Linked DNA regions of Homo sapiens: regions 2, 3, 4 and 5 are each linked to region 1. The links come from fine-mapping of genetic effects on gene expression. A gene starts in region 1. Each other region holds a variant in brackets. All regions are shown on one strand. Distances are between the middles of the regions.

What was found.
Region 2: its variant is fine-mapped to the expression of MPZL1 in unexposed skin (GTEx, PIP above 0.99). The same link has a PIP of 0.9 or more in fibroblasts.
Region 3: its variant is fine-mapped to the expression of MPZL1 in whole blood (Lepik 2017, PIP 0.95).
Region 4: its variant is fine-mapped to the expression of MPZL1 in blood mononuclear cells (TOPMed, PIP above 0.99). The same link has a PIP of 0.9 or more in T cells, monocytes and monocytes after interferon gamma.
Region 5: its variant is fine-mapped to the expression of MPZL1 in whole blood (INTERVAL, PIP above 0.99).

What each region holds. Positions count from the first base shown.
Region 1 is chr1:167,719,398-167,725,823 of GRCh38, reverse strand. MPZL1 (myelin protein zero like 1) reads right to left here and starts at 3,842. Exons shown (of 6, transcript NM_003953.6): 1 at 3,582-3,842. The coding sequence starts at 3,672. RefSeq lists silencers at 3,203-3,342, 3,373-3,442, 3,833-4,202 and enhancers at 3,014-3,514, 5,741-6,240.
Region 2 is chr1:167,775,301-167,781,726 of GRCh38, reverse strand. MPZL1 (myelin protein zero like 1) reads right to left here. Exons shown (of 6, transcript NM_003953.6): 5 at 5,561-5,663. Among named protein-coding and RNA genes, the nearest start is that of MPZL1, 57 kb to the right of the region's middle. The variant A/TA (reference allele first, on the strand shown) is at 3,303.
Region 3 is chr1:167,741,062-167,747,487 of GRCh38, reverse strand. The region is part of intron 1 of MPZL1 (myelin protein zero like 1); the gene reads right to left. Among named protein-coding and RNA genes, the nearest start is that of MPZL1, 22 kb to the right of the region's middle. The variant G/A (reference allele first, on the strand shown) is at 2,880.
Region 4 is chr1:167,787,398-167,793,823 of GRCh38, reverse strand. MPZL1 (myelin protein zero like 1) reads right to left here. Exons shown (of 6, transcript NM_003953.6): 6 at 1,905-6,004. The coding sequence ends at 5,903. Among named protein-coding and RNA genes, the nearest start is that of MPZL1, 69 kb to the right of the region's middle. RefSeq lists a silencer at 1,093-1,241. The variant G/C (reference allele first, on the strand shown) is at 3,642.
Region 5 is chr1:167,767,591-167,774,016 of GRCh38, reverse strand. MPZL1 (myelin protein zero like 1) reads right to left here. Exons shown (of 6, transcript NM_003953.6): 3 at 1,529-1,742; 4 at 649-781. Among named protein-coding and RNA genes, the nearest start is that of MPZL1, 49 kb to the right of the region's middle. RefSeq lists enhancers at 2,010-2,511, 3,446-4,017. The variant A/G (reference allele first, on the strand shown) is at 3,899.

The sequences.
Region 1 (6,426 bases):
ACATGGTGAAACCCTGTCTCTACTAAAAATAAAAAAATCAGCCAGATGTGGTGGCTCACGCCTGTAATCCCAGCACTTTGGGAGGCCAAGGCGGGTGGATCACCAGGTCAGGAGTTCGAGACCAGCCTGGCCAACATAGTGAAACCCAGTTTCTACTAAAAAATACAAAAATTAGCTGGGCATGGTGGCATGCGCCTGTAGTCCCAGCTACTCGGGAGGCTAAGGCAGGAGAATCGCTTGAACCAGGGAGGTGGAGGTTGTGGTGAGCCGAGATCACGCTACTGCACTCCAGCCTGGGCAACAGTGCGAGACTCCATCCCCCAAAAAATAAATAAATAAAATAAATTTAAAAATAAATAGAAAAATCAAAAATTAGCCAGGCATGGTGGTGCATGCCTGTAGTCCCAGCTACTTGGGATGCTGAGGCACAAGAAGAATCACTTGAATCTGGGAGATGGAGGTTGCAGTAAGCCGAGATTGTGCCACTGCATTCCAGCCTGGGCGAGACAGAGCAAGACTCCAGAGGGGGAAAAAGAGGAAGAGCAGCTGGGAGGCTATCACAGTAATATAGGCAAGAAATGGTGGTGACTTTGACTAAAAGGCTAGGAGTGGAGGTAGAAAAAACATCAATTCCAGATGCATTTTAAAGATGGGAGAACTGATTGGATGTGAAGGACAGGGAAGAATCAGGGATGGACCCTAGGTTTCTGGCCTGCACAATTAGATGTATGGAGGTTCCATTTACTGACATGGATGGTACAAATTACTGAGATTTAGTCCTCATATACTATGTGCTCATTTCAATTACCAAATTCAGTGAATTCTTATCACATTTTATCTCTCTTCATCTGACAATGCTGAAATACCAAACTCACCTGGTTTTTCTCTTACTCACAGAGACTCTTTGTCAGGTTTCATATACCCCAAAACTCCGTCTTTGGCTCTCTGCTATGTTCTTCAGTGCATTTTCCCTGGATGCCCTCATCCAAACAATCCAAGCTTTAACTATTAGCCACATAACTCTCTAAATCTCCATTTCCAACCAGAACTTTCTCCTCACCTCCAGAACTGTCTATCCAATTGTTTTCTGCCCATCTCCATTTGGATGTCTTACCCGCATCTCAAACTCAACATATTCAAAAGTATCTCCATCATCTTCTTCCCCCAAGACTCCTATTTCCCCATCTGTGAAAAGGCCAAAAATATGCCCAGCTTCCCAAGCCCAAAACCTATGATCATTTTATCCACCTCCTCTTTCAAGCCTGCATCAATGTTTCCAAGCTCTATCAAACGTACTTTCTAAGTGGCGCATCAACATGTGTCCTCTCTTCATAGCCCAATGCTTGAATTCAGATCTTCATCATCCTCCCCGGGATTATTACAATAGTCCTCTGCCTTCTCTGGCTTCAGCCTCACCCCACTCTAACCCATCCTTCACATCTCAATAGACAGAGAAATCCTCATTGGATTAAGTGTGGCAGACAAGGCCCTTTGTAAGCTGGTGCCCTTGGCAGGCTCTCCTGCCTCAACTCCCACCATTCCCCTTATATACACTCCAACCTCCCACTATACTGAACTACCAACAGGTTCATTCATAACTCTGTATGTACTTCTGCCCCTCCCCCATGCCTACCCAGTTTAAACTCCCTTCCTCCAGTAGCCTGAACTACAGTCTGAGATAATGACCCTCCTTCAAGCTCCCACAGTACATCTTTACCAATGTGCTTCTGACCCTACACAGTGGCACACACCTGTAGCCCCAGCTGCTTGCGAGGAAAAGGCAGAGGAATCACTGGAGCCCAGGAGTTTCAGTTCCAGAGCAGCCTGGGCAACACAGTGAGACCTAACCTCCCACCTTTTAAGTGTTAAGCACTTAAAAGGTGCTCAGTGAATGTTTGCTGAGTAACTGTCTTGATAAAACTTTAGAAGCTATCCTGTAAAAGATAAACTCTTATGTGCAGTATCCATGACCAGAAAAGAGGTGATTTGGCAAGAATTTTAGATTCAATAATTTTCTAAGTTGAACCAATAACATCAGCTGCTGATTTTTACATATCAACATTCATCTTCATTACTGAAGAGTTACGTCCAAGTTGTATGGGGCTATTACTCTAGTGATCTTTTCACTACTATGTAGTTTTGCACTCCTTCTACGTTTAATACCCTGATTTTAATTAAGATCACCCTAACTGCTTTGTCCTCCATAGCAATGTCTGACCTCTCATGCATAACAATTCTGTCTGAAGCATATTTCTGATAAACCTTAATTTTAGGCTATTTTCTACTTGTTTGATTAAACACAAATACCACCACCAACAAACACACTTTTAACCTTTTTTTCTAAGACAAAATACAGAATGGATTGTGTCTTACACAAAGTGTGTCATCATCTGTCAACCCCTGGAGGGTAGGGAGACTTTTACATTTATGCTTTACAGCCCCTGGAATCACTGTTTAAGTGGAACAGTTGGTGATCCAACAGAACTTCACCTAGTTTCCCTGATCCAAGGATTATATTAAGAACTTTTCCATGAAGAAAGAAATTACTGAGTAAACTCTGGTATTCAGATACTGTGATGCTAAATCATAACTGACATTTTGAAAACAAAGGGAATGAAAAAAATCTACGTGGTTTCTTAGCAGCTGGCCCTCTTTATAACTATTATTTAACTAAATTCGGAGACAGCAACAAGTACTTTGCTTTGAACAACAACACAGAAAAGTCCTGTGGCAGATACCACTTCAGATGTCCATAAAACAAGTCATCCAATTCCCATAAATTGAGCCCGAGGTTTACCTTAAGCTTGAGTCACAATATTTGGTAAGAAAAAGGAGCTTTTTTTTTCCTTTAGGAAAATTATGCTTTTTAATGCTCTATGTCTTGTCAAATTATGGTGGCTACGTCTGGAATTATGATGGATTTGACCAAATTCTTTTAAGCCAGGCCATCTCACTGGTATTCCAAGCTCTTTGCATTCTAACCTAGAAGTAACAATATTTTTTTATTGGCGTTTTGCAGACCACGGAAATGAGACTCTTTTATTACGGAGACTTAAAACTGAATGAGAGCATGGGAAAGGGAACTTACAACAAAACCCTGGCTTAACAGGAAACAAATCAACAAAGGCCCTACAAATGAAAAACCTGCAACTTTCCGCCACCTCCCAAAGGTGAAGAACGCCAGAACCCTAGTTCCTGAGTCAGAATCCGGGAGGGCCTAGACGATCCAGAGTCACCACGAGGAGAGGGCAGGGTGCGCCGCGAGGGCTCACCGCAGCCGCCCGCCGGGTCCGCTCCCCTGGACCGCCCCCCGGGAAGGAGCAAGGTAAAGCACTCTCCCCTCCTCCTCCGCACTCCAGGATCCAGGAAAGAGAAGAAAGAGGCTCTGCGCCTTCCCGGCCAGTCGCGGAGGCCCGCGTTCCCCATGGGCTGGGTCCCCTCGGCCCCAGAGAGCGCAGGCCGCGCCCCCTCCCCACCTCGGCTCTCAGTGCGCGCGCCTGGCCTGCGACCGCCGCGATGGGCGTGTGTCGGGCCCGGGGGCCCCACTCCCCGGCCCCAGCCCTGGTCCTGGCATCACTTACAGAGCCCAAGCGCCGCCGCCAGCACCGACCACAGCCAGCGCCGGCTGTCTGGGGCTGCAATCACCGCCCCGGCTCCGGCGGACGCTGCCATCGTCCAGCCACTGCAGTCGCCGCCGCCGCCGCCGCGTCCCTGAGCCCGGGTCCCCGCTGAGGTTGGCTCGGCTTGGGGAAGAGGCTTCTGATCTCTCCGCCACCCGCGCCGGGTGGCACCTCCACGCCGCGCTCCCCACTCCGGTCCCAGCCGCGGCTCTCCAGCTCTGCACCGAAGCCTCAGCCCCACTCCGGCCCTCGCTGTCCGCTCATTGGCCTGCCCGCACCCTTTTAAGGACGCGATTGGAGAGTCAGGCTGTCCATCATCCGTCCGCCGGGAAGGCCCCGCCTCCTCGGTCCCACCCAGGCGCCTCGGCCCCGCGCGGAGGCCGGGTCTGCAGCGGTCCCAGGCCGAGCCGAGCCTTCCGCCTGCCTGCGTGGCTGTCCGCCTGCGGGCCCCACCAGCCAGCGTCTCCTCTGCCTTTCTCAGGGTCCAGTCCCGTGGTCCTCTTCATTGTCTCTCCTCGCCACAGGTCTTTGCTGGGTACTAACCTCGCCTCCGTTTCAGCTCTTCTTGTTCTCTGCCGGCCTCACCTAACGAAAAAGAAGCAATTCATTTACCTTAAAAAGAAAGAAAAGACAGAAAGAAAAATAATGAGGCGTTCAATTGATGGGGGAGAGACTTCTGATTCAGTCGTCCAGGTGGAACACGTTCCCCGTGCCGTGTCCCCAAGGCCTGTCCTTTGCGTGGACTAGATAATGTATGTGTTGCAATTTGCGAAATCTACTAGTTTAAAAAGAAGTCTCCATCTTGCCCTAACCTCCTCTTAGGAACCTCCCTCCTGGCTTCAGAAGGATGGGAATCTGGAACTCTTTCCTACTACCTGAAAAACAAATGAAAATGCTTTTTGATTGTTTTGCTTTCGCATATCTGTGTTCCTGTCTGTGTCCGTGAAAAATAGAAAGCAGAAGTTCCCAACACTGATTCTGAAGTGCCCTGCAGAAGTTCCCGACACTGATTGCTGGCCCTGCTCAACTTGGTTGCCTTGGCCCAGAACAGTCTGCCACCTACGGGTTGTCCAATCAATAGGGGAAATATTTGGAAGGATCCTTATGAAAATGGCTTACAAAAGGGAAAAATGGGGGACAGGGGCACAAGAAAGATGAGTGTGAAGGAGGAAAAGGGAAGATTCAGGTGGGAGGCTGATACGATGAGGAAGGGAAGCAAGCTTTAGACAATTAGGACAAGAGCGGGGGAAGAGTATGGTGAGAACCCAAAATGTAACCTCTCACTTCAGGGTTTTTGTCTAAGGTCAGTCTTAACAATGCCATTCCTGATATCTGTGCTGTTTCAGCTAACATTGCAGTACAGCGAAATCATAAGAACATTAGTGAGAAAAAAACTTAAAAAAAAAAAATACCAGAACCACTTTGCCCTATTTCTGTCAGCAGATCCTTTTGAAGTTGTATCTCAAATGCCATAGGTTGGAAAAGATACCAATGCATTAATTGAACCATGGATGTAGAACACCTGGGCTTTACTCTCAAGAAGCACATCGTCTACTAGTGTACACAAACAAGTACTCAATTACATTTGTAAAAATGAGGGCCGGGTGCGGTGGCTCACACTTGTAATCCCAGCACTTCGGGAGGCCGAGGCGGGCAGATCACGAGGTCAGGAGTTTGAGACCAGCCTGGCCAGCGTAGTGAAACCCCATCTCTACTAAAAGATACAAAAAAATTAGCCGGGCATGGGTGGCGCGTGACTGTACCCAGCTACTCGGGTGGCTGAGGCAGGAGAATCGCTTGAACTGAGAGAAGAGAGACAGAACCTCTCATATAGTTTTATACTCAGAAAAGGAAAGAGAAGCGAAATTAAAGGCAGGTAACCCGGCGCCTAAGAACCAGACCCGAAACCAGGCCTGGGCCTGCCTGACCTAAGCCCGGTAGTTAAAGATCGACCCCTGACCTAACCGGTTATGTTATCTATGGATTCCAGACATTATATGGAAAGGCATTGTAAAAATCCCTGTCCTGTTCTGTTTCGTTCTGATTACCGGTGCATGCAGCCCCCATTCACAGTACCCTCTGCTTGCTCAATTGATCATGACCCTCTCACGCGGACCCCCTTAGAGTTGTGAGCCCTTAAAAGGGACAGGAATTGCTCACTCGGGGAGCTAGGCTCTTGAGACAGGAGGCTTGCCGATACTTCCGGCCGAATAAACCCCTTCCTTCTTTAACTCCGTGTCTGAGGAGTTTTGTCTGCGGCTCATCCTGCTACAGAACCTGGGAGGCAGAGGTTGCAGTGAGACGAGATCACGCGCCATTGCACTCCAGCCTGGGCGACAGGGCGAGACTCCGTCTCAAAAAAAGGAAGAGTGAATAAAGAAGAAACCCAAGGCCAGCAGGGACAGTGACTCTCAGCAGTGTTTAAAGCTTCTCTGCTGATTGTGATGTACCTCAGCCACATATACCTCGCTCTCCTAAAATCCACTGGCCCAAGAAGCATCTAGAAAGATTCACCAAGGATAAAACATTTAAGGTGAACTTTAAAAGATGAATAATTCACCAGAGAGAAAACAGGAAAAGCAAACTCAGAGAACGGAGAAAACAGGAAAAGCACATTCAGAGAAAAGAAATCACCTACCAAGTGTGAGAAACATTAGGTGAATCCTTTGTGGTTTGCAACTTGAGGGGAGTGAGGGAAAGAGGGGAAGAGAGAATGCCAGGAAAGGAGGCTGCGGTCATATTTTGAAGAGCCTTGAGTTGTGTTTTTTCTGGAGGCAGTGGAGAGTGGTGAAAGGGGTGTAAGAAG
Region 2 (6,426 bases), 56 kb before region 1:
ACAGCTCTTCTCTTTATTAATTCTATCTGTTTATGTTGGGTTTAATTTGCTCTTCTTTTTCTAGTTTCTTCAGACAGAAGCCTAGATCATCAATTTTAGAGCTTTATTTTTTTCTAATATAAACAGTTAATGCTACAAATCTTCAAAGCACTTCTTTAGCTATATCTCACAAATTTTGATATGTTATTTTCACTCAGTTCAAAATATTTTCTAATTTTTCTTGTGACTTCTTGTTTTACTCATGGGTTGTTCAATTTTGAAATATTTGAGACTTTCCAGGTATCTTTCTGTTGATTTCTGTTTAATTCCATTGTGGCCAGAGAACGTACTCTATATGATTCCAACCCTTTTAAATTTAATGAGAATTGTTTTATGAACCAGAATATGGTCTATATTTGGTTAATTTTCATGTGTACTTAAAAAGAGTAAGAATTCTGCGCTTGATGGAAGGAGTGTTTTATAAATGTCTATTAGCTCAAACTGGTTTCACTGTTAAGTCTTCCGCATCTTTTTTGATTTTCTGTAAACCTGTTCTACCAACTGCTGAGAAAGGAGTGTTGAAACCTCCAACTATGATTGTGAATATGTCAATTTCTCCTTTCAATTCTCTTAGTTTTACTTCACTTACTTTCAAGCTCTATTATTAGAAGTATAAATATTTAGGATTATGTCTTCTTCATGAGTAGATCACTTTGTCATCATAAAAAGTCTGTCTTTATCCCTGGTTCTATTTCTTGTTCTGAAGCCTATTCTGATATTATTACCACCCAGATTTCTCTTGATTAGTGTTAATGTAGCATATCATTTCCATCCTTTTACTGTTTAAAAAATGTGGTAAAATATATATAACATAAAAATTAGCATCTTTACCATTTTAAAGTGTACAGCTTAGTAGTGTTAAGTGCATTTACATCCTTGTGCAACCAATCTCTACGATATTTTCATCCTGCAAAAACTGAAACTGTACCAATTAAACAACTCCCTATTCTTCCTTCCCCAACAACTACCACTCTACTTTCTGTCTCTATGAACTGGACCACTGTAGGGTATGGGATATTAGTAGAATCACATAGTATGTCTTTCTGTGGCTGGCTTATTTCACTTGGCATATCTTCAAGATTCATCCATGTTGTAGCATGTGTCAGAATTTCTTTCCTTTTAAAGACAGAATAATATTCCATTGTGTATATATATACCACATTCTATTTATCCACTTGTATACTGATGGACTCTTGGGTTGCTTCTGTATTTTGGCTCTTGTGAATAATACTGCTATGAACATGGATGTACAAATATCTCTTCAAGACTCTGCTTTCAATTTCATCCTTGTATTAATATTTTTAACCTACCTGGATCTTTTTATTTAAAGTGGTTTATTGCAGACAGCATATGATTGGTTCTTGCTTTTCTATCCAATTTGTCCATCTCCACCTTTTATTGGCACACTCAGCCCATTTATAGTAATACAATCATCAGTCTGGTTGAGTTTAAATCTACCACTTCATTATTTGTGTTCTATTTGCCCCATCTACCCTTTGCTCATTTTCCCCTCCTTTCCTGCTCACTTTTGGATTAACTGAGTATTTTGAAATGATTACATTAAAGTTTCTTGTTGAAACCTCCAACTATGATTGTAAATACGTCAATTTTTCCTTCCAATTCTCTCAGTTTTACTTATTTTCAAGCTCTACTATTACAAGTATAAACATTTAGGATTATGTCTTCTTTGTAAGTAGATCGCTTTATCATCATAAAAAGTCCCTCTATCTCTGGTTCTATTTCTTGTTCTGATGCCAACGTTGATATTATTACCATCCGCATTTACCATTTTCCATGTTGTAGCATATGTCAGAATTTTGTTCTTATCAGTATTGCCATTCGGAGATAGAGCTTGTTAGCTGTATCTATCTCTTTTATTTTTTTCAGTGTTTGCTCTAGAATTTGCAGCATATATCTTTAACTTACCACAGTCTACCTTCAAATTATAATTTCATGGATAATATAAGGACCTTACAACAGTATTCTTCCATCCTTCCACCCCATCCTTTGTACTACTGTTGTCATACATTTTACTTCCACATGTTATAGCCTCATAAAATGCTGTCATTATTTTTGCTGTAAAGAGTCAATTTTTTTTTTTTTGAGATGGAGTCTCACTCTGTTGCCCAGGCTGGAGTGCAGTGGCGCGATCTTGGCTCACTGCAATGTCCGCTTCTGTGGTTTAAGCAATTCTCCTGTCTTGGCCTCCCAAGTAGCTGGGATTACAGGCGCCTGCCACCATGCCCAACTAATCTTTGTATTTTTAGGAGAGATGGGGTTTTGCCACGTTGGCCAGGCTGGTTTCGAACTCCTGACCTCAGGTGATCCACCCACCTCAGCCTCCCAAAGTGCTAGGATTACAGGCGTTGAGTCACTGCGCCCAGCAATTTTCGCTATTGCTTTCTGTGTGTTTATGTTTTTCATTAAATTTACTAAAAATTTCACTATTTCTTTACATATTTTTTTCTCTCCCTTTTTCTTCTCGGATTCTAATTAGATTGCTTGATATTGTCCGGTGGCTCACTGAAGCTCTGTTCACTTTCTTTTTTTTCTTTTTTTCTTTTTTGAGACAGAGTCTCGCTCTGTTGCCCAGGCTGGAGTACAGTGGCATGATCTCAGCTCACTGCAACCTCTGCCTCCCAGGTTCAAGTGATTTTCTTGCCTCAGCCTCCTGAGTAACTGGGACTACAGGCACGTGCCACCATGCCCAACTAATTTTTTGTATTTTTAGTAGAGATGGGTTTTCACCGTGTTAGGCTCTGTTCACTTTCACCCCGCCATCTGTCTTTCTCTTTGAGCTTCATTTTGGATAGTTTCTATTGCTATGTCTTCAAGTTGATTGACCTTTTTTTTTTGCAGTATCTAATCTGTTGTTAACACCATCCAATTTTTTTTTATTTCCAGAAGTTCCATTTTGGTCTGTTTTAGATATCTATTTCTTTCCTCATTGGGTTCAAGCTTTCCTTTACATCTTTAAGTTTACTAATAAGATTGATAATACTCATTTTAAGGTCTTTGTTTATGAATCCCATCATTTCCATCCATTCTGAATTTGTTTCTGATTGATTTCTCCTGATTTTTTATTGTAATTAATTATTAAATTATTATTTTTTTAAATCTATCCATCCATCCATCCATCCATCCATCCATCCATCCATCCATCCTTCCTTCCTTCTTTCCACCCATCTATTTATTTGAGATAGGGTCTCACTATATTGCCCAGGCTGGTCTTACACTCTTGGGCTCAAGCAATCCTCCCACTT[A/TA]GGCTTTCAAGTAGCTGGGACTACAGGTACACACCACTATATCTGGCTTATGTGTTTTATTTTTTGGTTTCTTTTTATGCCTGATAGTTGTTTTTTTTTTTTTGAGATGGAGTCTCACTCTGTCACCCAGGCTGGAGTGCCAGTGGTGTGATCTCGGCTTACTGCAACCTCTGCCTCCCAGGTTCAAGTGATTCTCCTGCCTCAGCCTCCTGAGTAGCTGGGATTACAGGTGTGCACCACCACACCTGGCTAATTTTTGTATTTTTAGTAGAGATAGGGTTTCACCATGTTGGTCAAGTTGGTCTCGAACTCCTGACCTCGTGATCCACCCGCCTTGGCCTCCCTAAGTGCTGGGATTACAGGCGTGAGCCACCGCACCAGGCCATGCCTGGTAGTTTTTGATTGGTGCCAGACATTGTAAATTGTACATTGTTGGGTGATGAATTTTGTTGTAGCATAAAGCGTGTTGGATTTTGTTGTAAAATGCAACTAAATTACTTTTGGATTAGTTTGATTCTTTAAAGGCTTCCTTTTAAGCTTTGTTATGGTGGGTCCATAGCATCCTTTATTCTGGTACTAATTTAACCCATTTAGGTATGACCATTTTGAGAACCCCAACCAATACCCTGTGTATTATAAGTCTCTCTACTCTGGCTCTTAGGAACACAAACTAGTCCCTCACCTGTGTGAGCACCAGGCATTGTGCAACCTACTGCATTTCAGGTAGTTCTTCCCCTGGTTTCAGAGAGTGTTCTCCTATGTGTATACAACTCTGTAATCAGACAAAGACTCAAGGGGACCCCGCTCCAAATCTCTGAAGTGCTCGTGCTCATCCTAGCACGCTCTCTCTATGGTTCCTTCTTTGGTACTCAGCCTCATAAATCTTAGCCTCCTTGACCTCCCCAAATTCTGATTTCCGCCTTCTCAATTGAGTGAGACAGCTGGGCCCAGTTTCCATTTTCCCCACCTACACTGCAGTGTGGAAACTGCTTCAAGGCAGTACACTGGGGCAATAACACGGCTCACATTGTCTGTTTCCTTTCTTTTGGGGATGACAGTGCTGCATAATTTGTGTTCCACTGTCTTGAAAACCACAGTTTCTTTTTCTTTTTTCTGGTTTGTTTTCAGCAAAAAAGCAACTTCCATAGTGCTTCAAGGGCGGAATAAAAATGTTCCAATGCTTTTTTAGATGCTATGCCTATGTGTATGTAACTTTCATGTCTTCATTTACAACCATATTCCTGTTCACAACCCAAATTAGTAGACTGAGGTATCTGACATATATTATGTAATGTGAGAGAGAGACAGACAGATAGAACAGGAACAAGTAATGAGCCTGATGCTGTGGTAGAGAACATGCTATCTAGACACCTGGGTTCTAGCCCCAGTTCTGTCACTAACTGGGTGTGTGCTTTTAGTAATTTAACATCACAATGCCTTAGTTTCCTCACCACATATAACAACTATGGAATAAGACTATGGGTACTTTTCCCACAAAACACTGTTACTCTCTTTATTTCCTCTTAAATCCATTCCCACCAGCTAACACCTTTTTAGGACAAAGCTATAACTGGCCAAATTCTTTAGCATGCTTTCTACCCCAGAAAAATCAAACTGAACTAAGCTATGGAATTTTTGCCAAGCCACAGTTATAATTAAAATACTACAGCCAAAACACACAAAGCTAGATTATATGCTAACTTCCAAATAAAACCTGTTTCTCTTCTGTACTTTCTACAAGTAGAAACCAAAACCATTCCTTGTTCATCAAGCCTATTAATTATTCAGATAAATGCTTACTTTCCATTTTTTCTAAAGAATCCACAGAAAATAATTTTGGTTTTATTATCAATACTAAGAATACCAACTTTTCCTTGCTAATTTCTTATCTTAGAGTACCTCAATACAGAAAGAATCTCCTTCATTAGATTCATTTCCTTGGGCAATTAAAGAATCTTTTACTGACAAAGCCATTTCCTAATTCTGCTTGAGGCAAGGAAGCTACATGGTTAGTAAACAATTTATGTTATTGGTGGTTTCATGGAAATCTTTACTCAAGCAGATTCTTCACCACATATTTTCCTGTGGTCTTCCTAGGCCAGCCCTTTAATTCCTCACTCCCACTCTCTCTTTGTCTCTGTCTGTCTGTCTCTGTCTCTGTCTCTCATAGCTCAGTATTCTTTTCCACACCCAAGGAAGTGACAGAGCACCAAGCTGTAGGGAACAGTGCAGTGGGCAGAATCGCAATCAGCCATTACCTGGTGAGATCCAGAAGGCAGACTCTTTACAAGACCCTCAGTGTCGGAGGGGGACTTCCGAGGAGCCTGCTTAACTGGTGACAAACTCTCTGATGTACTGCAGCTGATGAATTGGCAATTTGAAGAACAAATGTAAAAAATAATAATAATAAATAAATAGAAACAAAAATATAGAAATGCAACTGACGGCAAGATGAAGCAACAGATATATAAAAACAAAAGACAACATAACAATGGGTGTCAAAATGATCACATGTTTTTAAACTATTTTCTATACCTGACACTCACTCATTCTTCTAAGTCAATGAACTCATCACTGGGGGAGGCACAGAAACAAATATGGTACAACCTCTTCAACCCAGTTTACAAAAATCATATTGGAATTCTAGTTACAATACACATTTATCCTTTTGCTGTTTGTCTTTTCCCCCTGCCATCAACCCTCCTTTGGGATAAAGGTTTAAGGGAACAAGCTCTATGGTACCTTTTATTAGCTTAATGGCAATTCACTTTTGTTATAATCAAAGGCAAACCTCTTCTGAATGTATGTTTTAAATTACAGATATATATCCAGGCAAGTCTTGGCTTATCTTGTTCTCTCCATATTTTTATTCCCTACCAATACCACAATCAAATCCCCCCAAAAACTCAGGAAGTCATGAATGAGAAATTAGGGAATGCCAGGTCACACAGGCTGAACCTTTTCACGGTGACAGTAGTCTTTAACAACAAGCACTATCTCATAAATGAATCAGGGAAAGTGAATGCCAGGAAGTAAGAAAGCTGGGGTACAGCGTAGGGATTTTCCAATGAGATGTGTCATCAGTACAGCTTAAAGCCTTTTGATATATACTTTTAAAACTTAG
Region 3 (6,426 bases), 22 kb before region 1:
TTCGGGAGGCTGAGGCAGGAGGATCACTTGAGCCTAGGAGTTCTAGACCAGCCTGGGCAACATAGTGAGACCCCTGTTTCTACAAAACATTTTTTAAAAATTTGCCAGGCATGGTGGCTCATGCTGTAAATCCCAGTTATTTGAGAGACTGAGATGGGAAGACTGCCTGAGCCTGGATAGTTGAGGCTGCTGTGAGCTGAGATCGCACCACTGCACTCCGGCCTAGACGACAGAGTGAGGCCCTGTCTCAAAAATAAAAGGGAATGAAATTAGAAAATGTTTTTAAAAGACTAGTTCCTTCTACTGGCTTAGCAATGCAGGCTCTATGCAAAACAATTCGCTTATGGGCTGCAAATGGTAATGAGTGTTAAAATTAGGCTGAAACAACAGAAATATTTGCAGTTTTCTTCCTCTATTGTATAATTCCGGTTCCATTAATGTTTCCTGACTGATCTTCTAACTCTCTATATATCTCAGTGGCTCTCTGATGAACAAATTTTCTGTGTCTCTTGTTTGGAGACCCAAACTGAACAAATTTCTGCTATGAAGGATCAAATTCCCAAATTTCTTATAAAAATAAAACCACAGCAAGAATAACAAACTTATTTTTTCTTAAATTTTGTGATAAAGCCTCCCTCTACAAAAAGTTATATTTTAGAGGAAACTAAGAATGATAAATCACCTTTAATTTAAGAATATATAGCCCTTAGGAAAAAGCCAAAAACAGCTTAGAAACACATGTTCCACTCCTAAATTTCCATCCAAATGGATTAATACTGCCCTCTGAAAGCCATTCCTCATTTTTCAACAACTTTGTCACACAGCTTGCCCACAAACAGGCTTCTAAAACAGGCCACTGAACCCCAACTCCATTCACAACAGAGCAGAAGGAAATAGCACCCCCTTGGTAAAGTTCTCCCTTCCATCTGATTCCAGGGTGCAGCCCTTTCCATTTTGGAGAACTCTGTGCTAGAGATCTTATTCGACATATGTATTGTCTTCACTCTTCTGTTATTGGTGCCAATGCTGCCCACCCCTTTGCTGATGCAAACAGGGAGGGAGAGCTGCTTTACAATGCTGCCTAACATGCCAAGACAGCCTCAACTCCCTCGCACGGCACACAGAGCCTTTCAAAGGCTGGCTCCAGGTTACCATTCCAGCCAGTTTATCATTCTCATCTCATCCCAGAGCCTACATTTTTGCCACATCAAACTTCTAGCCCTTTCCCCAACACAGCACACTCTTTATAATATGCTGTATATGCTATCTCTCAGTCTGAATGCCTTCTCCACCAACCCACTCCCGTTGGGCCAACTCCCACTCTTCCTTCAAGGCAACTCCAAGGCAATCACCACTGCAAAGTCTCCCCTAACTCGTGGTCTAATCATAGGTATTTTTTCTGAAGTATAAATGAATTTTTTATTTTAAAAGACTTATAAAGGTGTAAAAATTGTCATAGTTCATGTAATTGAAGACACCACTGAGGGTAAGACACATTATTTTCTGTGTCCCCAAGAAATAAAAATGCTGGCTATGACTCGCCAACAATTGTAAGGCATATCCCAATATCAGAGATATTAAAATATTAAAAACTGTGTCAGAATTAATGAAAGGCAGTAAACCACAAACCTGAAAGGCATGTTGTCTTCCAACTATCAGTTAACCTATAACACATCTCAATAATTGTTTTCCAGCGTCTCCCTGGCTTCTGGCATCTAAGACTCTGAATTTTACCCAAATTTGGTTCTTCTATCTCTTGTTTCTTAGCTCAGAATTTAAAACCCAGGATATGCATAGTAAAATGAGTCCTATTTATTAAGTTTGAAAATAAGAGTGCCCATTTATTAAAAACATGTTTAATAAAATACAAAAAGAATATGACAAAACACAGAAATCAGTAATATCATAAAACTAAACAAAAACAAAAAAAGCTTCTTTGCCCATAGTGACCCAGGCAATCAATACCCAACATTTCAGCATCATCAGTGTTAACCCAAACAAAATAGAGATGTTAAGTATTTTCCGTGTTTTTAAAAGACACACAGGATATTCCCTGTGTTCAAGGTTCCAAAAACATTCTTGACATTAGTCTGCTGAATCTTCTATTCACACTATTAGTGACATGGTGTTTAGTACAATGCAAGATTTTTGCCCCATAACATAAACAATGACAAGCACTTAAAAATATATTTGTAATAAAGAGTCTGACATCATTTTTGATATTTGACTGCCAAGAGCTTTCAAGCTGTACCCCTTTCCTCAGGGCAAGCTAATAAGAAAGCCCAAGTGAGCCATCCTTTGGAACAGGTGGGAAGTTCAAACCAAGACCTGGCTGAAGGGGCATATAAGGACCTTCACTCCAGACTCAGCAACTTATCACCATAAAAGGAGAGCCAGTATCCTTTTCCTGCTTTCTCAAGCCATTCTTGTACCTGCATGGGAAGCCTGCCCTGCTCTCCCCAAAAAGCCTCAGTAAGTGAGTCATAAACCCTTTTCGTACCGTCCTGGTGCACATATGGTATCATCAGTTTCCACATCTTAACCAAATTTTGCAGTGGGGGGAGAAGTAGTGGATCCATCCGCCTCTGCGGAGTAAGCACAACATTTATTCTTAAACTGATGACAGTAAACATTATTCTGTTTTGATCTTACTCCCAATTTAATGGAAATAAATTTAACGAAACAAGTGGAAAAAAATATTTACTAGTTGTTGGAGTCTATAACTTTTATTAAGGTCTATATGTGAACTTGGAAGGAGAAAATGGGCAAACTGCTATTTGGAGGTTCTTTTTTTTTTTTTTTTTGAGACTGAGTTTCGCTCTTTCGCCCAGGCTGGAGTGAAGTGGTGCGATCTCGGCTCACTGCAACCTCTGACCCCC[G/A]GGTTCAAGTGTTTCTCCTGCCTCAGCCTCCCAAGTAGCTGGGATTATAGACGCACACGACCATGGCCCACTAATTTTTGTATTTTTAGTAGAGACAGGGGTTTGCCATGTTGGCCAGGCTGGTCTCAAACTCCTGACCTCAGGTGATCCACCCGTCTTGGCCTCCCAAAGTGCTGGGATTACAGGCATGAGCCACTGTGCCCGGCCTTTTTTTGGTTTTTAAAGAACACTTAGACTCTGGACATGCTTCCTAATTGTTTTACACATCAAAAGTTGTCCCCTTTGTAAGTTTTTAACAAGATGTCTAGAAAGGTTTCCTGAAAAACTTCCGGTGTGACTATGTGGTCTGCAACTATGTGAATCACAGGGTTACCCGAGACAAGAAAGAGTGATGTGGGACCTTGTGCAAAAAGCCCTCCATGCCTCAGTTTCTCATACTTTTAAGTTTATTCTAATAGTACCGACTTCAAAGAGTTATTACAAGAATGAAATGAGTTAATATTTGTAAAGGGCTTAGAATGCCTGTCCATTACATACCTCAATGTAATAAAAGCCATCTATGACAAACCCACAGCCAACATAATAATGAATAGGGAAAAGTTGAAAGCAGTCCCTCTGAGAACTGGAATAGGACAAAGATGCCCACTCTTACCACTTCTCTTCAACAAAGTATTGGAAGTCCTAGCCCGAGAAATCAGACAAGAGAAAGAAATAAAGGGCATCCAAATCAGTAAAGAGGAAGTCAAACTGTTGTTGTTTGCTGATGATAAGACTGTTTACCTAGAAAACCCTAAAGACTCCTCCAGAAAGCTCCCAGAACTGATAAAAGAATTCAGCAGTTTCCAGATGCAAAATTAATGTAAACAAATCAGTAGCTCTTCTATACACCAACAGCAACCAAGCTGAGAATCAAATCAAGAACTCAACCCCTTCTACAATAGCTGCAAAAAAAGTAAAACAAAATACTTAGGAATATACCTAACCAAGGAGGTGAAACACTTCTACAAGGAAAACTACAGAACACTGCTGAAAGAAATCACAGATGACATAAACAAAAGGAAACACATCCCATGCTCACGGATAGGAAGAATTAATATTGCGAAGGCCAGGCGCGGTGGCTCACGCCTGTAATCTCAGTACTTTGGGAGGCCGAGGCGGGAGGGTCACGAGGTCAAGAGATCGAGACCAGCCTGGCTAACATGGTGAAACCCCGTCTCTACTAAAAATACAAAAATTAGCTGGGCGTGATGTGCGCCTGTAGTCCCAGCTACTTGGGAGGCTGAGGCAGGAGAATTGCTTGAACCCAGGAGGCAGAGGTTGCAGTCAGGCAAGATCACGCCATTGCAATCCAGCCTGGCGACAGAGCGAGACTCTGTCTCGAAGAAAAAAAAAAAGTGAAAATGATGATACTGCCAAAAGTAATCTACAAATTCAACGCAATTCCCATCAAAATACCACCATCAGTTTTCACAGAACTAGAAAAAACAATCCTAAAATTCATATGGAACCAAAAAAGAGCCTGCATACAATCTGGAGACATCACATTACCTGATTTCAAACCATACTATAAGGCCACAGTCATCAAAGCAGCCTGGTACTGTAATAAAAATAGGCACATAGACCAAAGGAACAAAATAGAGAACCCAAAAATAAACCCAAATACTTACAGCCTACTGATCATTGACAAAGCAAACAAAAACATCAAGTGGGGAAAGGACACCCTATTCAACAACTGGTGCTGGGATAATTGGCTAGCCACATGTAGGAGAATGAAACTGGATCCTCATCTCTCACCTTATACAAAAATCAACTCAAGATAGATCAAGGACTTAAATCTAAGACCTGAAACTATAAAAATTCTAGAAGAGAACATTGGAAAAACCCTTCTAGACATTAGCTTACGCAAAGACTTCATGACCAAGACCCAAAAGCAAATGCAACAAAAACAAAGATAAATAGCTGGGACTTAAACTAAAGAGCTTTTGTGTGGCAAAAGGAACAGTCAGCAGAGTAAACAGACAACCCACAGAGTGAGAGAAAATCTTCACAATCCATTCCAAAATAAACTATAGTTCCTATTCTGATTATGGTAGACTGATGATAGACTATGGACTCCTTAAGAAATTCCCTCAGGCACTCCATATATATTTATTTTAAAAGTTGGCAAGTATCTTTTTTATTTGAAAGATACTATTAAGGTATCTGCCCATAATATAGTTAGGCGATACACTCTTATACTTGTTATATATTTATATGCCGGGTTTTTGATATTATGGAAAACAAGAACAATTTGATAAGATCAAAGATTTTTTTTTCTTTTTTTTGTCTTGCTCTGTCACCCAGGCTGAAGTGCAGTGGCATGATCTCTGCTCACTGCAACCTCCGCCTCCCAGGTTAAAGTGATTCTCCTGCCTCAACCTCCCGAGTAGCTGGGACTACAGGTGAGGGCCACCACGCCTGGCTAATTTTTCTATTTTTAGTAGAGACGGGGTTTTGCCATGTTGGCCAGGCTGGTCTCAAACTCCTGACCTCAGGTGATACACTTGCCTTGACCTCCCAACAAGGGTTTTTTTCTGGGGGCAGGGTCTCACTTTGTCACCCAGGCTGGAGTGCAGTGGCATGATCATGGCTCACTTCACCCTCAACCTCCCAGGTGCAAGCAATCTTCCCACTTCAGCCTCCTGAGTAGCTGGGACTACAGGTGTGAGCCATCAGGCCCAGCTAACTTTTATATTTTTTGTAGAGACAGGGTTTCACCATGTTGCCCAGGCCGGTCTTGAACTGCTGAGCTCAAGTGATCCTCCTGCCTTGACCTCCCAAAGTGCTGGGATTATCGGCATGAGCCACAGTGCCCAGCCAAGACTAAAGGGTTTTAAACAACAAAATGACAGCACCTGATGTAAAATAGTTCTTGCTGCTATGTAGAAAATGGAGTGGAGGGGAATACGGACTGAAATTGGGAAAGCAGTTAAGAAGTGACTGCAGGCCAGGCACAGTGGCTCATGCCTGTAATCCCAACACTTTGGGAGGCTGAGGCGAGCAGATCACTTGAGGTCAGGAATTCAAGACTAGCCTGGTCAACATGGTGAAATCCAGCTCTACTAAAAATACAAAAATTAGCCAGGCGTGGTGGCGTGTGCCTGTAATTCCAGCTACTCAGGAGGCTGAGGCACAAGAATTGCTGGAATCTGGGAGGCGGAGGTTGCAGTGAGCTGAGATCATGCCACAGCACGCCTGGGTGACAAGTGAGACCTTGTCAGGAAAAAAAAAAAAAAAAAGTGACTGCAGGCTAGACGTGGTGACTCATGCCTGTAATCCCAGCACTTTGGGAGGCTGAGGCAGGAGGATCACTTGAGCCCAAGAGGTCAAGACCAGCCTGGACAACATAGCGAAACCCCCATCTCTAAAAAAAAAAAAAAAAAAAATTAGCCAGGCGTGGTGGCACATGCCTACAGTCCCAGCTACTTAGGAGGCTGAGGCAGCAGGATTGCTTGAGCCCAAGAGTTCAAGGCTGCAGTAAGCCGTGATTACACTACTGCACTTGAGT
Region 4 (6,426 bases), 68 kb before region 1:
TTCCTGGTGTATTACTTGTTTTCACGCTGCTATAAAAGATACCTGGGACTGAAGGCCAGGTGTGGTGGCTCACGCCTGTAATCCCAGCACTTTGGGAGGCCAAGGCGGGCAGATCACCTGAGGTCAGGAGTTCGAGACCAGCCTGGCCAACATGGTGAAACCCTATCTCCGCTACAATACAAAAAAAAATTAGCCGGGAATGGTGGCGCATGCCTGTAATCCCAGCTACCCAGGAGGCTGAGGCAGGGGAATCGCTTGAACCCAGGAGGTGGAGGTTGCAGTGAGCCGAGATCGTGCTACTACACTCCAGCCTGGGCGACAGAGTGAGACTCCATCTCAAAAAACAAACAAACAAACAAAAAACAAACAAAAACAAAACCCCAAGACTGGGTAATTTATGAAGAAAAGAGGTTTAATTGGCTCACCGTTCTGCAGGTTACACAGGAAGCATAGCGTCTTTGGCTTCTGGTGAGGCCCCAGAAAGCTTCCAAATATGGCGGAAGGCAAAGGGGTAGTGAGGCTTCTCATGAGGCGTCTCACGTGGCGGGAGGAGGAGCGAGAGAGCAGAGTGGGAGGGTGCTGCATACTTTTAAACAAACAGGTCCCATGAGAACTCACAATCACGAGAACAGTACCAAGGAGGACGGTGCTAAACCATTCATTAGAAATCTACCCACTGTGATCCAATCACCTCCCACCAGGCCTCACCTCCAATGCTGGGTATCACAATTCGACAGATTTAGGCTGCGACACAGATCTCAACCATATCATCTGGTATTAAATCCAGAGAGATATTTGTGCTGTGGGTCTTTATAACATTGAAAAATGTATGACAGGGAATAACGTTCTCAAAGCCATGCTGGCAGTAAAGTACAATAAGTAGCTAGTTTCCTAGGACTCTTTTTTATGACATACTTCAATGTAGGCTGATAGAATTATGTCAAAGGGGCTGGGCCTAGTGGCTCACACCGGTAATCCCAGCATTTTGGGAGACTGAGGCGGGCATCTCTACTAAAAATACAAAAAATTAGCCGGGTGTGGTGGCGCGTGCCTGTAATGCCAGCTACTGGGGAGGCTGAGGTGGGAGAATCGCTGGAACCTAGGAGGTGGAGGTTGCAGTGAGGCAAGATCATGCCACTGCACTCCAGCCTGGATGACAGAGCAAGACTGTCTCAAAAAAAAATTTTTTTCAAATTATATCAAAGGGTAATTTCATTAAAGTAATTCTACAAAAAAACAAAATATATTGAAATTGTTCATACAATATCTTGACTATGCAAGAGGAAAGTGCAGGGGAGAACCCGCCATAAAAGCAGATGGTTGGCTCCTACCACCAGCTCTACCAATACCACAGATGCCACTTTCCTCCCCGTGGCTGCTCCCTCGCCTTTCCTGCACAGTGGGAGGATGAAGTCAGTGGTTCCCCAGTCCAGTTAGCACAGGAACTACCCAGAGGGGTCAGAAGGGAGCCAACTGGGGTGAGAGAGTATCTGAGTTTCCTCTAAACACTGCTCAACTCAGCTCCCTCAGGGGTGGAAGCTGCTCTCATAAATAAAAAGTCCATCTTTGGTTGGCAAGGCCCCTATGTAGCTTGGAAACCAGAGCCCCAGCAGGTGGATGCCCTCCGACACTTAGTGCTGACTTGGAAGGAATTGCAGAGATGACAAAAATGTGATTCCATCACTCACTGCTGCCCTTGTGTGGTGAAGGAAGCATCCCTTTTCTTTTTGTCACATCACGCAAGATGGATGCTGTTCACATGTGAGAATTACTCCCAGGGGAGTTCCTGCCAGCTGTAACTCATCTTCTCCCACTCAAGAACGCATTAGGTTTTGCAAGCCCAAAGTTATGCAAGGCAGGGGCTCATTGTGAATCCATGGTAATTTATAAAATTACTAAGTCACTGCGAAGCCTCAATGTTTTATTAGTAACACATTATTTGTAACATAGTTCTCAACAAATTAAGTCACCACATTGTCTTCCAGACTGAGGTTAAAGCTCTCAGACATCTGTGCCTACCACCTAGACTACACTACCCTCTCAAGTTCCTAAGGGACTCTCTAACCAGCTCCTAAGGGACTGGGAGAAAACTGCAACTGCATTTCAGCACATTTATTTGAGTAAGGAAGCAGTTTGGTACTTCCTTTTGGTGTGAGAGGCCACAGGGCATAGTGGTTAGGAACAAGGCTGTGGATCAAACAGCGGCCCCAGGCCCAGCCCCTCTTCTCTGTTCCTTTATTAGCTAAGTGGCCCTGGGTAAGCCATATAATCTTTCAAACAATGGGATTAAGATTAGTACAATTACTGTTAACTCACAGAAATAATAGAGAAAGAAATGCAAAGTGCCTGGCTCACACCAAGTATTTGGTAACTACTAGTTACTTCCATTCATGTCACCTGTCACCTCCACCCTGTGGCAAGCTCCTTGAGGAGCTTTGTCTTGTTTTGTTTCCTTATGCTTAGCACAGTGCTTGGCACAGGATTGTTCTCAGTGTAGGTTGCTGAATGGATGAATGCTTCCACCTACTCATCCATCCACGTAACATGTATTGAGCAGCTAAGTGCCAGGTGCTGTTCCCTTTACTGCAGACGGAGCAGTGAACAAAACAGCAAGGTTCTGGTCTCTTGTTAACTATGTTCTAATGCGGGAGAACAGACAAGTGTGTACTGGGAAAGAGGGAGAGAAATAGAGTAACTAGAGCAGAACTGAGGGGGCCAGGAAGGCTGAGGCGGTGGGGTGGGGGGCTTGCTCTTTTATATATCACAGAAGGTCTCCCTGAGGAGGTAACATTTGAGCAGAGGCTTAAAGGAAGTCAGAGAGCAAACCACAGGAATATTGGCAGAAGGCATGCTTCAGGCCCAGGGAACAGCATGTGCAAAGGCCCAGAAGCAGGCACACGGACGGCATTTTTGAAGAAAAGAAGGCAGGTGTAGCTGGAATGATATGAGTGAAAGGCATATCTCTTTTTCTATTCTGGTCAAAATGAGCACACAACACAATTCAGAAATTGAAAAAGATGTATTAAAATATTCACAAAAATACAACTGAAGATCAAAAAATAATAATGAGCTTGATGGTTTTTCCCTAGCTGATATATTTCCATTGAAAAACTAGAGATAGTTTGAAATTTCAATCTCTAAGTAATGCCTTTTGAGTGCTCCCATACAGAATTAGCGCATAATTTTAAGACGACCCTGTTTGCCAGGACGAAGACATGGAGAGGGCAGATCTGCCCTTTAGGCAACCTTAGTTCGTTATCTGCAACCAGGAAAGGAGTGCTGAGGCACAGGGAAAAGGGGAGCCAAAAGGGCTGCAGGGGTGGGTGTGCAGGGCTTGGGAAGAGGTCCTGCCCTGAGAGGCTCATCTCAGTGTGAGCAGCTTCCTTCAGGGAAACCTGTCCTGGCAGAGCACCATGCTGGCAGCTGCCCTTGCCTGGGGGGAAGGTTGGTGAGAACTGGTGAGGATTCTCTGCCAGAATGCCAGGGCACTGACAGAGTTTGAGGTGTCTGGTTGGGCAGGAGGCCAAGAAGTCGGGCTGGGGAAGGGAGTGGTAAGGGAGGAACAGGCCTCCAGGTGTCATTCGAGTGAGTGGCCCCCACAGCACCAGCTTCACCAACACATGGTCCCGGCACCGCAAGAA[G/C]AAGTGAAGGCTCTTGCTCTCAGGGAGCTCCGAAATGTTTCATTTATTCACAGGAACTGTTGAGAAAGCAGTGAAAAAACAATGCCCCTTTTCTCTGTAAAAAACGACTGTAAGGAAACATGACACAGGCCTGTCTACAATGTGTGTCCTCTGTACCTCAAGCACAGCCCTGGTCAGCTATGTGGTTTTCATGGTGGCAAAGGCTCACCAGGAGTCTCAGCTTGAAGGATGGTGACAATCTCAACACCCTTCCCCTCCAAACATAAGAGGCCTTCCAAAGGCTCCTATAGTTTTCAAAATAGATGCCCAAAAAGTTTTAGGATGCAAGGCAGAGTTGACCACTTTGTGGAAATGTCTCAGGGCCAGCACTGTGTGTCACTCTCTTGGGCTGGGCCTATGAACATGGAAGGCAGCAGGGCAGGCGTTTTTTTCTCCATTCCACACAGAACACAGAGCAGACGCTGCCCAGCTTCAGACATGTGTGGTGACCAAACCTGATCCCTGTTGACTCACACAGATGTGGCATGTAAGGTGGAGCGTTACAAGAATAACAAAAATAGCTCCTCAAAAAACAAAAGGCTTCATGTATGCAACAGCATTAGTTTTGAAGCTCATATGCCCTTTATCTTACCACCTTGTGCACACCTCAAAATCTCAATCCTGTTTTATTCCCTTTGTGAATTCTGTTGGAACTCAGCCTTCAAACATCCCCAGAAGATGACAAGATGAGAAGAAAAAGCAGCAGCTCATAATGGACTCCAAACTACAGGGAGAAAAAGTAACATTGCCCCTCACTCCCACTCACCCCAAACACGTTCTGCAGACCATCTAGACAGTAATTCTTTCCATAACTGTGGGCTTTCGAACAATTTTAAAAGGGGGGAAATTTAAAAAAAAATTCAGAAAATGGGAGAAATGACAACATAAGTGTTGAATGATCTTCACCACACTTTCCATTCCCAGTAAAAAGTAAAAACTCATAGATTTTAAGTGCGGTGGGGAGTAGTGAATAGGAGAAAACAAGTTTTAGGGAAGGACAGCCAAACTGTCTAATCTAGGCTCTCATTAACCTCAACAGTCTTTGAGGCACCATGAAGCTGTTATAAAGCCATGACTGATGCTGCCTCTTGCTGGAAGCATGACTGACGCTTTATAAAGAAGGTGATTCTTGCCAGCTGCAGTGGTGCAACTATAGTTCGTTCCAGCTACTCGGGAGGCTGAGGAGGGAGAATCACTTGAGCCCAAGAGTTCAAGGCTAGTCTGGGCAACATAGTGAGACTCTACCTCAAAAAAAAAAAAAAAAGCGAAAGAAGGTGATTCTCTAGAGAGCGAGCTCTGGGAGATTGGAGAGCGGCAACATAATGATACCATTTCTGCCTACTTAGAAGGAAAGAAACTCCTCTCCTTTAGCTGTATGGTGACTGTTATTTCAAGCAGAAAGGACATCAGCAAAGAATAAAACCGATACTTTTTACTCTCCACGTTACAAAAGTTCTCAAGCAAAGCTTGGATTTTCTACTTAATCAGTATTGATCCAACTGTGTCCAGAATGAAGTGACCTTCGGCATTTATCCTTTGCTAATCTTGCTATTATGAATCCAGAAATTGATATGACACATTTCAAGGGTGCAAACTTAAAGTAAGTCTACACAACATGTAAGGCTAACAATTGCCCCATATTTTAGTGAGAAAAACTTCAAAAAAACTTCTCAAATTGTTTTCAAGTGGCATAGCCAATGGGTATTTTTTAAAAGCGGCAGACAAATAAATGGTACTGATACTGTGCTAAAGGCCACCCTGGGTATGCTTCCATCATAGCATCTCCATCCTCCAACTACAGTAAATGCTAAGACTAATCAGTCTTAAGCCCTTAGATTAAAAGGCCATGTCTACTGGAAATACTACAGGATCTGCTATTGTCTCCATTAAGGCAAACCATTTCTAAATGATGGTGAAAGGAATGTTTCTGAAATCTCCCAATTGTAAATGACCTGAAAAGAAAGTACAAAAACAGCAAGACAATGGGTACATATGTAGAATCATACCATCTTTTCATCATGCAACACTGGCTCCTCATATCAGGATGACTAAATAGAATATTTATACATATCCTTTGTACACATCTTTCTCTCCCTCTGTGAGTACACGTGTACTTGTCCTTGCCTGGGTCTCCAAGGCTACATGTGGTAATGGGCTACATTTTCTGCACGAGAGTCCAGTTTGGTTTTGTTTCTTGCTGAGGATATGTTCTAGGTATTCTCTTAATTCTTTCGGATATCCGCATACACCACAGACTCTGACTTGTTAATCTTGTCACTGTGATGTCCGCCGGAGTGGTCTAACTGTGCATATATGACTGGGCCCTGGAAAAGGGAAGCAGAAGGATTAGAGGACTGAAAACGCTGGCGGTTCCTTCAGCTACAGGCATAGAAGCAATGATTAACGTGATCACATCAGGGTTCCAAAGCAAAGACTTCCCTCTTGAATGTCTTCAGGAAGACTTCTTATGGATGATACATCCAGGACTGACTTTGAAACAAGATTGGACATACGTTGACAATAGTTAAAGCAAGTACATGGGGCTTTGTTACATTATTCTTTCAAACCTTTTTGATGTTTGAAAATTTCTGTAATAATATATTCCTTCTTAGGAATATCTCTTATCTTAATAGCTATCACAGAATTCCTCAGCTCTTACAATTGGGGTAAGAGTCTTAAGGACTAAGATGGGAACTTCCACGCACCTGAGACCCACAGAAATCATGAGCTTCAGAATAATCAATCC
Region 5 (6,426 bases), 48 kb before region 1:
GTGGGGTAGGGGAACTACAAAAAGGAAAAGCCCTGCACCATCATCACACTGGGCTGGGGGAGGTAGTTTATTAAAACCACTGCTTTTTCTTCTTCTTTCTTTCTTTCTTTTTTTTTTTTTTTAAAGAGACAGGATCTTGCTATGTTGCCTAGGCTAGATTCAAACGCCTCGGCTCAAGCAATCCTCCTGCCACAGCCTAAGTAGCTGGGACTTACAGGCACATGCCACTAATTCCAGCTCACAACTTCTTAATTAGGGTTTTATATTTCCTAACTGGAAAGAACCACCTTGTGAGTTTATTAGCAAGAAATTGAAATTAAACTCTTAAATTGGGTAAGTGATGTCTTAAGAATACTAATTGCATAGTGGATGGTATTGAAACACAGAGCACAGACTGCTGAGCAGCTCATCTCACCAAACCTAAGAAGGAAACTGGAACAGAGATTAGAATCATATTCCACATTTAATAGCAGGCCCACTGATTTCCACTTGCCCATGTTAGAACACCTCCTAAGGAGACTGCCTGATTCTGACATGAAAGAAAATAGTAGTTAATTCTTTAAAATCCTTTTTTCATTAAATACAGAAGTTTCTATAAACCCTGATTCCCTCCCTCCACCCCTGCCCTAAAAAAACAGTGTTTCTTACCCAGTGTAATCCCGTTTAGAGTTTTTCCTTCTATAGAGGACAGCCAGAATCATGCTGATGAGCAGAGTGAGACCTAGGACCACAGCAGTAACTATGCCCACCACTACCCAAACTGGAAACACAGGCAAATTCTCTAGAGAGAAAGAACAAAATAGTTTTAAGGTACATTGCTACAGAGAGAAAACATGGAATTTTATTAAATTAACGAGCAAGTATCTTCATTTAGCAGTTACCGTACCCTCTTTTATTATCCAAACTATGAGATCCTACTATCTATCCTATTACTATGTAATTCATGACATGTGAATATTAGATGAGAAAGAATGAACTATGGAACTAAGCATTTCTACACCTACAATCCCTCTCAGTGCTCTAAAGAAAAACCGGAGGTGTGAATTTACCTGGATCTACTCTCCAACAAAACAGACTTTGTCTCAAAAATGAGACACCAGAACCTGCATTTCCTGTTTGTTCTCAAAATCAAAAGGAAGAAATAACTGTGCTGTTGTTGAAAGCTTTCTCCTGGAGAATATAAAACAGTATGAATCTCCTTCTTTCCCACTGCCCATCACATCCAAACATAATGAATTTGGTCTTTCTTCTAATTAACACTGAAAAATTCATACTCCTGAAATTAGACCAATAGGCACCAGACGGTAGGAATAAAAATGGAGAAATCAGCCACTCTGGGTCAGAATGAGCAACAAGTTTCCCAGCTCCAAGTGTGTTTGGTAGAGCCACAGGTTCGTGGCAACAGGGAGCACAACTGTATGGCAAAAATCCTCCCTCCAAACCCACCATGAAATGCAACTCATGTTTTCCAACCAAACATGAGATAAAGGAGACTGCATTATTACTGCCAAAATACTCAAGGAAGTACCTTTTTCTACGACATAGAGCCTAATGTGTCCAGGCTGGACAACGATGTCAGGAGGGTTTTTGACATCACAGATATAGGTGCCATTGTGTATAAACTGCATATTTTCTATGTTGATTGATGCATCTTTCTTGTCAAGGTCTCCAGCCCAGCTGATTCTGTCTTTAAATGGTGGATAATTCCCAAGGTACACTTGCCCTTGGGAGTAGTGGAAAAACTGCAATTAGAAAAAAGGAACACATGAACTATTCTCAAAGGCAGAATTCCTAAACTCTGTAATGTGCATGCTATGAAAGGTTCTTTTAAAGACTTCATACGGAAAGAAATGCAACATCTCTCTCCCTCTCCCTCTCCCCCTCTCTCTCCTCCTTTTTTCGGTCTCCCTCTGTTGCTGAGGCTGGACTGTACTGCCGTGATCTTGGCTCGCTGCAACCTCCCTGCCTCGGGCTCCTGTGATTCTCCTGCCTCGGGCTGCCGACTGCCTGGGATTGCAGGCACGTGCGGCCACGCCTGACTGGTTTTTGTATTTTTGGTGGAGAGGGGTTTTGCCGTGTTGACCGGGCTGGCCTCCAGCTCCTGACCTGGAGTGTTCTGCCTGCCTCAGCCTCCCAAGGTGCTGGGTTTGCAGATGGAGTCTTGCTCACTCAATGCTCAATGCTGCCCAGGCTGGAGTGCAGTGGTGTGATCTCGGCTCGCTGCAACCTCCACCTCCCAGCCACCTGCCTTGGTCTCCCAAAGTACTAAGATTACAGCCTCTGCCCAGCTGCCACCCCATCTAGGAAGTGAGGAGCGTCTCTGCCTGGCCGCCCATCCTCTGGGATGTGAGGAGCCCCTCTGCCCGGCCACCCTGTCTGGGAAGTGAGGAGCGCCTCTGCCCGGCCACCACCCCGTCTGGGAAGTGAGGAGCGCCTCTGCCTGGCCGCTGTGCAATCTTCCAAGTGTGAAGTGACAGCCTTTCTGCACGTGTACCCAACAGCTCCGAAGAGACAGCGACCATTGAGAACGGGCCATGATGACGATGGCGGTTTTGTCAAAAAGAAAAGGGGGAAATGTGGGGAAAAGAAAGAGAGATCAGATTGTTACTGTGTCTGTGTAGAAAGAAGTAGACATAGGAGACTCCATTTTGTTCTGTACTAAGAAAAATTCTTCTGCCTTGGGATGCTGTTAATCTATAAACCTTACCCCCAACCCCATGCTCTCTGAAACATGTGCTGTGTCAACTCAGGGTGAAATGGATTAAGGGCGGTGCAAGATGTGCTTTGTTAAACAGATGCTTGAAGGCAGCATACTCGTTAAGAGTCATCACCACTCCCTAATCTCAAGTACCCAGGGACACAAACACTGCGGAAGGCCGCAGGGACCTCTGCCTAGGAAAACCAGAGACCTTTGTTCACGTGTTGACCTTCTCTCCACTATTATCCTATGACCCTGCCACATCCCCCTCTCCGAGAAACACCCAAGAATGATCAATTAAAAAAAAAAAAAAAAAGAAATGCAACATCATATTACAAATCACAAGTTATGGAATCTAAGCCAGACAGAAGTTTAGAGATCACGGCACTCAACCCTGCCAGGTTTCAATGGAAGAATCAGACTCATATATCACCTCTAATCCTCTCAATATTTCATTGATATAATTATTACCACCCATAATTTTATAAAAGACAAAATGGAGACTTAAGAGAAGCCATTTTCCCAAGGTACCAATGATAGTAAATTGGGGACCCAGAGTAAAATTTAGGCCCATCTGAGTCTTCAAAGCCAATGTTCTTCCAGTAACACCATGATTGAGCCCAGTGATTCCCAAGGCTTCAGAAAGCTTAGTGTTGAGTTAGCTTACCACTAAGATACACAGAAGCACAAAGGAGAAGAATCCTAAATATCTCAGATCAGCTAATCTGAGTTTCGCCCTCTTCCTTCTGGTTTCCTATGGAAAAGTCATGGGTGTGTGAAAGGAACAAAGCCCAGATAACACAAGATACTCTTGCCGGCTTTTGAAAGTTCAGCCTTTAGCCCCTTTCTCTTTCCACTCCTCAGTCTCTCCTCAGTCCTGCTTTCAGCAAAGGAACTGTCTTCTCAAAGTAAACCTTGTCAAACTCAGCACCTGGAAGCAGGGTTAAGGCCCAGTGGGAGGGGATCTATCCTCACACTTGGCTCTAATCCAAGCAGCTATGCTGGAGGCCTGATGTCTTTGTTCTGGTTAATGGACGGGGTGATGGTGGAGCTGGGGATAGAAACCAGCTCTATTAGCAATTCAAACAGAACATTTTCAGAACCCTTTGAGCACGGTGAAAACCCCAGTGCAGACTCATCCATTCCTATGATTTAATGATCATCTAGATTTTCTTAACTCCCAAACCTCTCTCTCCATCA[A/G]TAGCGTCCCCTAAGCTCTAGACTCCTTGCCTACTCACTTTACCACCTGGCTGCCCCTCTCCCCCAAGCTTGTCACCCTCTCTTACAAACTTCATCTTCCCCTCTTCATGTATCGTGTCTTCACTGATGGCTACTGTTTCTTTCCAAAACCATAAATCTTGAAGTCATCCTTGATTCTCTTTCTTCCTATCCAGTTAATCCCCCAATATTGTCAATGTCTCATTAGTTTCTCTCAGTTCTCTCTTCTCTCTATTCGGTTCCCACTGACAATATCTGTTTTTATGTTTTCATCATCTTGGACTATGGCCTCTTAACTGGTATGTCTAACTCATCATCTTCCACAATGCCTAAATGATCACTGATAAAGAATAATGGTTATTATTATAACATTTATCAAATATTTACCCTGCATTTCATATGACCTAAATGCTTGTTAAGAACCGTGAAGGGTCTGAGATTTTACCCTACTTACAAGCTAACAAAGTTAGTTGGCCACAGGTTCATAGGTGCTGACAGAAGACACGGACTCCTGTGAAATCTTCACTCCCATGAAGAAGACTCAGAAACAAAGAACCTTATGAGCAGAAAGCATGTGTTTGTTTCTCTTGCCCCGCAAGTCCCATAGCCATGACATGGAGGGGCTCACATGGATGTTGTGCAGGCAGAGGCGTTGCATCACAGCCGAGGAACCCCAAGCTCAGGGAACACTATTCTCTTACAAGGGGCAGAAGACATGTCTGACTTCAGCCCTGAAAGGAGACACTACCTTTACTATACTCAAGAATACACAAATTTGTCCTTTGCTCCAGAGGGTAACATCATCTCTGCCTTCCAAAGCTAGTTACTGTATAAAAAAAGTCCAGAACAAAGGCAGCCAGTGCCTTTGCTAGCAAGGTGTGCAAAAACGTGAAAGACCCATAGAAAACTGTCTCCCAACAACTCTCTAGCCCTCACAACCACCCTGCAAGGTGAGATTCGCCTACCTGATATTTCATAAATAGGGAATGTGAGGCTCAGGAAACCTTGGTGACTTTCCCAAAGTCACAGGTTTTAGAGATGGAATTCAAACTCAGCTCTGATTTCAAAGCTTATGCTATTTCCAATGTTTAAGGCCTCTCAGGTGAGATCATGTCTTATCTGTTCAAAGTTCTTCACTCTCTCTTCTTCACTAGAAAATGAACCATAAACTCTCAGCTTTGCAAATGAATCCTTCCATCACCTGCTCTCTGCCTTCCCTTCCCACAACATCTCCACATATTCCCTGCCTTGCATTTCTGAACCAGCGGGGATGAGCTACATGATGCTGTTTCTCAGCACTGGGTCTGAGACAGCTCCCTCAGTCAGGCTCCCTCATTGAATGGGGGCCATTTGAAGGCAGAGGATAAGATGTATTTATCTCTGTACTCCTTAGCACTTTGGACACAGCAGGAACTACATAGTTTGCTGAATCAAACTGAGGAATAACGTCTTGGTCAAACCAGTGAGAGATGGAAATAAAACAGTGAAAAATTCACAGAAAAGACTAGAATCATTATCAATCAATATTTTTAAAGTACAAGCCATGGTGCTAAAGCTATGAGGTATACTAAAGATGTAAGACAGGCAAGTCCTCTTAAAACACCCATATTCAGGAAGAAGAGGAAAACTGTCATATTAAGGGATCTGTATTATAGGAATGGCCCAGATAAGGGTAGTGAGTTTTAAGGGCTAAAAGGTTAAAAAAAAAAAAAGAGGCATTATGGAGGAGACAGAGGGTAAAAATGGGGTACAGCTTAAATGACAAGTGTTCAGAAGTAGGAAAACAAAGCACAAAGCATTTTTACTAAACTGGAAGTGATGCCATAAGAGAACAGAAGTGAGGCTAAAGTGGTAGGCTGGGCCAAATTGTAATGAGCTTTTAATTCTAGACAAATGTTGTCCACAATGGGAATCTAGGTTCCTGATAACCTGCAGTGGCAAGGTGAAAGAGCTGTTCTAAGACTATGCACCTGCTGGCATATGAGGGTTGGATTGAAAGATGAGAAAAACAGAAGCAGAAGAATAACAAGGGGCTACTGCACAAGACCAGGCACACAGTTAACATTGCTCAATAGACAGCAGAGACACAGGAAGGCTGACAAAAAGCTAGACACCAGAAACAAAGTAGGAAGAACCAGCAAAGGTTCTTATTTCTTGGGGGCAGAAGGGAAGTGGTAAGGGACAGGGAAGGAAAGGACAGAAAACACAAAACAAAACAAAACAAAACAAAACAAAACAAAACAAAATGATTACAAAACTCATCTGCAGATGAACACAATTAACCTAAAAAAAAAAAAAAAAAAAAAAAGCAGAAAAGGGAAACAGAAGGGAGAAAAAATGAGTTCAGTTTCAGACATGTGGATCCCAAGGCCATGGGCCAAAAAAGCCATCCACAGTATGGCTTTTGAATATACTGGGTTTGAATATACTTTTCCTGTAAAACCTATAAAAACAAAAAAGCAACCCACTCATCTTATTAAATGTGTCCCGACATTTTGGAATTAAAGGAT